Homo sapiens: one gene and its partner. The protein of the gene in region 2 purifies or fractionates together with the protein of the main gene of each other region. This does not show direct contact. Each region holds a gene or a part of one and is shown on either strand. Other genes may lie near its edges.

The links. The genes of interacting proteins can lie anywhere in the genome.
Region 1: the proteins of ZNF641 (region 2) and PPM1H purify together in Homo sapiens (affinity purification with mass spectrometry; one large-scale study listed by BioGRID and IntAct). This does not show direct contact.

Annotation. Positions count from the first base shown.
Region 1 is NC_000012.12:62,925,151-62,928,650, forward strand, and holds part of PPM1H (protein phosphatase 1H), read right to left. Parts: intron 1-3,500. UniProt on the Homo sapiens protein: Dephosphorylates CDKN1B at 'Thr-187', thus removing a signal for proteasomal degradation.
Region 2 is NC_000012.12:48,348,120-48,352,365, reverse strand, and holds the start of ZNF641 (zinc finger protein 641), read left to right. Parts: upstream 1-1,446; 5' UTR 1,447-1,580; intron 1,581-1,649; exon of another isoform or gene 1,650-2,303; coding exon of another isoform or gene 2,304-2,320; intron 2,321-4,246. UniProt on the Homo sapiens protein: Transcriptional activator. Activates transcriptional activities of SRE and AP-1.

The DNA of each region.
Region 1 (3,500 bases), about 15 Mb from region 2:
ATATCTTAGACTAATTAAAAAAGGGGAAACTATAGAAGTTGAACTTTTGTTTTATAAAATAAACATCCATTCACCAAATATGTCTGTCATTACCCTACCTGCCTAGACAAATGAGATGAGCAAAAGAAATAAAATAACAGGGAGCAGGTGGGGTACAGTGACTCACACCTGCAATCCCAGCATTTTGGGAGGCCAAGGTGGGTGCATTACTTGAGGCCAGGAGTTCAAGACCAGCCTGGGCAACATGAGGAAACTCGTCCCTACTAAAAATACAAAAATTAGCCAGGCGTGGTGGCATGTGCCTGTAGTCATAGCTACTCGGGAGGCTGAGGCATGAGAATTGCTGGAACTGGGGAGGCAGGTGTTGTAGTGAGCCAAGATTGTGCCACTGCACTTCAACCTGGGTGACAGAGCGAGACTATCTCAAAAAAACAAACAAATGAACAAACAACAATGAGCAGAGCTCTGGTGTGTCATGCTAGCCAGGTTTATACCCCTGTGGCTGAAGAGCTACATCATCTTATATTAACATGTAATACTCATTTATTGGTACAAACCTTCAAGCCATATAGCCATATTTAGTTCCAAAGCTGGCCTGAGTCTTTATCCCTTCTATGGCATTTTTGGGGCAGTTTTGAATTCCTAGCCTAGACAGCTCCCCAAGGTCTGCAAGGCAGGGCAGCAGGCACATTCAGACACAAACACTATTTGCCTGTTGACACATTTGTCTATTTGGTCATTTCATCTGTCTTCTAATATGTGCCTGAAACAAATAAGGTACTCAAATATTTGTTGACTGAGTTATCTATAGTAGTAGAATCTTCGAAACTATCTGCCCAGCCCTAACTACCACCACCTCCTTTTTAAAGAACTGCCCATTTTCAGGGGTGGGTCCTGGCAGCCATAATCACCTGTGGAGAAGGTGGACATCTGAGACAAACTGAACCTATTGGAGTCTCTCTCCCAAAAATTCAAAATTGGAATTGAAGCCACAGTTGATGTGGTCTGGTTGCTTGTTGGTGGCATGGAGAAGTCACCCGTGCCCTGGTGAAAGACTGAAAGAATGGCCACTTTGTTGCTGAATAGCTTTCTAGTTCAGGGTTCCAGTCCCTTGTAAAATCCAAGTTATTCCTATACTTGGGTTCTATAAGACAGTTGGTATCTAATCACCATTTCCTTCCCCCCACCACCCCAAAGTTAGCTCAAAGGCATTTCTATGAGTTGCAACCAAGGGCAGTAAGTAGCTAAAAGGAGTAGGATGGTTATTCTAGTACTTTACATGTTCTAAGCCTGATATGAAATAGAAGCCATAGAGGAGATTAGGTATGACCACCCAAATATTAAATTTTGCATTGCAAAGAAAAAAAATGAAGTTAAAAAATGAACATGTTAGAAAAAATATCACAACATAATAGGCCAAGGGTGAACAGCCTTAAAATATAAAGAGCTCTTATAAATATGAAACATTATCTCAACAGAAAAATGAATATAAACAGGAAAACCGTAAAAAGATCTCTAAATGGGTCAGGTGCGGTGGCTCACTCCTGTAATCCCAGCACTTTGGGAGGCCGAGGTGGGCGGATCACCTGAGGTTGGGAGCTTGAGACCAGCCTGACCAACATGGAGAAACCCCATCTGTACTAAAAATACAAAATTAGCCAGGCATGGTGGCGCATGCCTGTAATCCCAGCTACTCAGGAGGCAGAGGCAGGAGAACTGCTTGCACCCGGGAGGCGGAGGTTGCAGTGAGCCAAGATTGTGCCATTGCACTCCAGCCTGCAGGACAGAGCAAGACTCTGTCTCAAAAAACAACAACAACAACAAAAAGATATTTAAATGGCTAATAAATATCTATAACATATAAGTATATACATCTGTTTATTCATTTTCTTCAATAATCAAACAGATTACAATGAAGTATATTTCATCTATCAGATCACTGACAAATATTAAAGGCTTAATACTAAAGTGGTAGACACTGCTGGCTGCAGTGTGAATTGATACAACCAATCTGATATGTATCACAGTTGTGAATGTGCATAGCTTCTAACCAAGCTTTCCATGTCTAGAAATTAATCATAAGGAAACAACTGAATGAGCTGAAGAAAACATATGAAGATATTCACTAAAAGCCTAAAAGTAAATCTAAATGTTCAATGGGAGATTCATGAATGGGAAGCCCTTCAATGGAATATTAGGCAGTCGACATATAAGAATATATGTTGGAGGCCGGGTGCGGTGGCTCACGCCTGTCATCCCTACATTTTGGGAGGCTGAGGCAGGTGGATCACCTGAGGTCAGGAGTTTAAGACCAGTGTGGCCAACATGAGGAAACCTCATCTCTACTAAAAATACAAAAAAATTACCTGGGTGTGGTGGTGGGCGCCTGTAATCCCAGCTTCTCAGGAGGCTGAGGCAGGAGAATCACTTGAACCCAGGAGGCAGAGGTTGCAGTAAGCCGAGATCGTACCACTGCACTCCAGCCTGGGCAACAAGAGCGAAACTCCGTCTCAAAAAAAAAAAAAGAAAAGAAAAAGAAAAAAGAAAATAATATACGTTGAAGAGGGGACCATTTTATATTCTTAAGTGAAGGAGACATGTTATAAGACATGTAAACATATGATCAGCTTTTATTTTTTTTAAAAAAATACCTATATAAAAAATCTGAGAGACCAAATCTAAAATACTAACAGTGGCTAATGAATTAACAAACATTTTTCACTCTGTTCTTCATATCTTTTACTAGTCTATATTATCTGAATTTCCTATAATGAGTATCTCATGGTTAAAAATGTTTTAAGTATTTCATTAGACACAGTGAAAAACCACCAAAGGTAGGCGTTCCACAGAACTGGATATGAATCCAAGATCTGCCACTTAAAAAGCTTTGTTACTTTGAACAAATAACTTACCTACGTTGCATTCATCTCATTAAATCCTTATACATAAAGTGCTTAATAGAGAACCTACACACAGGACTAGCTCAACAAATGACTATTGCATTTAGCAATTTTTAATGCCTCTAATAAAGTATAAATAGGGATAATCCTATCACTATATGGTATATGGGAGATGGGCCAAACAAATCAAATGCTATACCGTTCTTAAGCTAATAATTTGCAAAGTATCTACTGTAGTACCAAACTGGAAAGCTAGTGAAAACCACTTATCTAAAAAAACAACTTGGGAAAGGCTCCTCAACTCTTTGCCATAACATTATGTTGTATAATTAGGTTCAATCCTGCATCTTTTGCACCATAATTAAGGGCATCTGCTCTCCTTACATGGTCAGTAGGAAACACAGTCAATTATGGAGGGTCACAGAAGTAATGCAGATAAGTCAGAATGAAAATCACAGTTAAATAACTGCAGTCCCACCTACTCTCTCCCCCTTCTCCCCCATCTGCAAGGATGACAAAGATTCTCTCCTCCACCAAACTTGAGTCAGGCCTCTCTTCTCTACTAAGTCACAACGTTGGCGCCAATCCTGTTCCTTAAGC
Region 2 (4,246 bases):
ATAAGCCTTTATGGAGTTAAGCCCCGAGATACTGGTTTTGCTAGCCTACTCCAATTAACGCACCTTATATTTACCACCAGTGGTAGCATAAGTGAAAAGAACCCCTGGACTTAGTTCCAGGACCCGGGATAAAAATTCTGGCTCTACTACTACCCCGACATATCCCATGATCTGCTCCTAGAATATGCTCTATACTCTTCCCAACTGCGTGTCTACTGCATTTTCCTCTTTCATTAGACAGCCCTCCTGACTCTTCTCTGCCTCACGATTTCTGTCAGAGTGGGGGGCCTTCTCTGACCTCCGTCCCATACGTGGTCACTTCTCTTTGCTTCAAGTGCAGCGTACGTTCCTCTGTTTTAGAATCTACGTTTTTATTGCAAATATTTGTTGACATGTGCTTCCCCAGACTGTGAATCCTTTAACTCCCAGCATTTAGTTACAGTGTCTGGCACACGTAGAAAATAAATATGCATTAAACGAATGATTGTCACATATGACCTTAAGTGAGTCAATTATTTTTTAAGTCTACTAAATAAAATTTTTGAAAATTGTTGTAATGATGAAATAAGGAATGTGAATGTGACTTGTAGGTTATAAACAGATTCTAACAGCAATGGGTTTACTCACTGTTTGTAGGCCCTTCTCATCTTTTCTAGTCAAATCCATCTTAATGCTGCAAGGTAGCACTATCCAATAGAAATATAATGCAAGCCATATTTATAGCCACATTTAAAAAGTTAAAACCAGGTGAAATTAATTTTAATATATTTAACCCAATATACCCAAAATATCACTTTTTAAATTAAATCTTCTAAATCTTGGAACACATCTCTATTCAGACCAGCCACATTTCGAGAGCTCAGGTGTCACCTGCGGCTACGGCTCCCGCAAATGGGACAGCAGCCGCAAGGCCAACTTCAGATAGCAACCTGACTTCCCCTCAGGCAGAATAAGTGACTCCTCCTCAGTGCTCTCTCAAGCCCTTTATCCTATCGTGAAAACTAGAGGGTACGCTCCTTGAGGAATTCCAGACTGTTGTCTGGAGAAATCGCTCTCGGCCTCGGTCTGGCCTGTAACGGGCGGTTACGCAATTCCAGGTAATTGACGAACCCTGAGGACAGAACTCCGTGGGAGGCCCAGTAGCCAGAGCGGAAAATGGTCAGTCAGGCAAGAGTGCGGGCAAGTGGCCACAGCAGGCTGCGATTCCGGCGCCCGCCGCCCTCCAAGCGTCTCGGGCCGCACCCTCCCCACAGCGGCGGGCGCGGAGGTCCCGGGTTCGCGTTTGGGGGCGCCTGAGCCGCAGCCCCGCCCCCTCCCGTCCCTCCCTCCCTCCCTCCCTCCCACTCCTCTCCCTCCCACTCCTCTCCCTCCCACTCCCCGCACCTCCGCCGCCGCAGAGCCCCGGAAGCGGGCGGGGATTTCCTGTGCCCGCCCCGCCCCGCCCGCGCCTGCCGGGCCGCCGTCTCCGCCTGTCGCTGGCTCCGCCGGCCGCCGGCTCCCAGACGCAAGCGGAGGGCGGAGGGGAGGGGCAGGCGGCGCCCGGGAGGGAGGCACCGGGCCGCGGGCCAAGCCTACCGGGGGTGAGTGGAGCCGGGCCGGAGGGAGCTGCGGCTGGAGGGAGGGACGCCTGGCTTCCCGGGGCGGCTGGTGGGGGCTCGGTCACCCATAGGGGCTGGGAGGAGGATCGGCGCGTCTTCCGGGTTGCTGCCTTTCCCGGGGGTCTGCCCCGCTGACATTCTGTGCCCGCCTCTCGCCCTGTCTCCCCGTGCCCATCGCAACTGTCAGGCCCTGCGGGCTCCCGCCGCTGTCACTCGCGCACAGGTTACCCCGTGGCTCCCTTTCTCTTCACTTGCTCATGCCCCAGCTCATGGGAAACCTGTTTTCTGACCTCACTTCCCCTGCTCCAGTTCTGCCTTGCTCGGATTCTCTGAAATCTGACCCTTTCCAGGGGCACTGTGACAAGAAGAAGGGAAGAAGCAACCTTACCCCTGAGCAGGCTCCCGTCCCGCCCATGCCCTACCCGTGGCAGGGGCCAGGGTTCTCTGATGGACGGAGCCAACTCGTCCGTGTGCCCTTGGGCTACTCATTTTTATAACATGGCCCCTTTTCTGTTCATCAGCACTGGCTGCAGAAACTTCCTTTTGCAGGTCCCTTGCTACCCATATGTGTGAAGAAAAGGGGGAAATGAAAGCCCTAGAACCCACACTGCAGTGGGCATGGGATCATCCTGGAACCAGGAGAAACGAGGTTAGGGCTACCACCTTAACCGCCCAGGTGCTGGCTCTGCGTGAATATCTTAGGAAATGCAAGCTGAGGACAGGTACCCATCCCATCCTTTGCTGAGATTTTTGCTAGCACTTCCACGGATTTCTGTCAGTGGTATAGAAAAACTTACAGCTGGCCCAATGGGCTCTGCACAAAGAGGCTTCCCATTAAGAGACTCTGCTACCTGGGGGAGATGGAGAAAGGGTTTGAGACAAGTGTCCAGATATGTAGCTAGAGGTAAAGCCTTCAGGGAGGATTTGCACAGGAGCTAGAGAACCAGAAAGATGGGACGAAGAGGGAGAATTAGTGCCCTGTGTGTTAAAAGTGGATACAGAGCTGGAATTCAGAGAAGAGAGCTAAAATGGAAGTTTCCCTTTATTGCTTTAGCAAGAATTTTCCTTTCTCATGAAAAGTCTCTGAAAAGGAAACCTCCTAGGCTGGGAATCAGTCCAGGGTGCTCCCATGAGGCCCTGAGCCATCTTTGGACTTCTGAGATAAAAAGGGAATTTGTTTTTCCTGTGCATTGGGCTTAGGGTTCCCACCTACCTCTTTTGTCAAAGACAAATAGGCAAGAAAATAGACGACTTGACATCTGTGATTACCTACCCTGGCCTTCAAGGTTCTTGCAAGTGTTATTGAAAGGATGTAAGTAAGCCAGGATAGTTACCAAGTTTCTGACTGCTCTTGGAAGCCTTTCACTGACTCTGACTGTTTGGATATTGAATAAGAATACCCAAAATATGTTGCCAAACAGAAAGAGATTCTGAGTCTCAGATTATTTCTCTGCCATAAAGCCCTATCACAACAGAAGTGTGACCCATCCTGCTCTTAAGTTGTCTAAAGAAAAAGAAGAGCCCACTATCTGGTATTGTACACTGCAGGATTATTAAGAATTAAAAAAAAATAACCTAAATCTCTTCTCTTGCAATCAAGACCCATTTTTTTCTGTTTGACCTATATAGAGATAGAAGGGACCTCTGTTTTTATTCATTAGTAGCATCATTCATCAGCCTTCTTCTCCAGACAGAGAAAACTACATCCGACATTTTTAACTTTCCCAGTGGCTGTATTTCCAATCCCTTTCTTGACTTTGATGTTTTCTGATGAACACACACTGGCTTCACCATACGCTTCTTTCAAACTGAATATATTTTTCTAATGAGATCTGACTGGTGCCTGACAAATAAACAGGTTTGTTCTTCTGGGTCATGTTAGCAGCAGTTCTTCCCCCCTTTTCCAGCTCTGGTTCAAACTCTTTCTGTTCCTTTTTACTTTTCCTGATTAAACTTCAGCTCCTCACAGACCAACAATTTCTCTTACCTCTTAGGATTACTTTGGAGTCTTAACACCTGCTTTCCAAGTTATCAGTTTTTCTACCATATTTACTACCAGTTTTCATTGGATGGTAGACCAAGTGCCTTTTTATTGAGGCTTGTCCCAAGTGAGGTACCTTTTGGCCCAGCCTCATGATACAAATACGCCCCTTGGTTGGGACTTTTACCTATAGTAATCATTTCATTCTAAACTGATGAGACTGTGATTTGTGGCAGAAAATCTTCTGTGTGATTACATCCATCTTGTTGAGTGCAGGTCTATATGTATTTCTTCCTGTATGTTTCCAAATTGCTTACTTTCCTGTACTTCATGTGCTTGAAATTAAATGGATAGCCTTTGAATTTCCAGGACAGTTCTTTTTTTTTAAATGAACTTCTTCTAACCTTCAGGTATATTCTGTTTCTATAATGAGGTCCACAAAATACCAGTTAGTGGCTTTGCTACGTAGCACCTGCCAATTTCTTAGTTCCTCCAAGAAGCTTGGTGCAGGCTCCGTTGATCGGAACACATCAAGCTTTTAAAGTTCATCTTCCAGCAAGCTCCTCCTATCTAGTTTTGTCTATTATCCCTGGGCCTGTTCTTCATAACTCCCTTAGAAATATCACTCCTTTCCCATTTTCATGGGCATTGCTGATATGAATTTGTT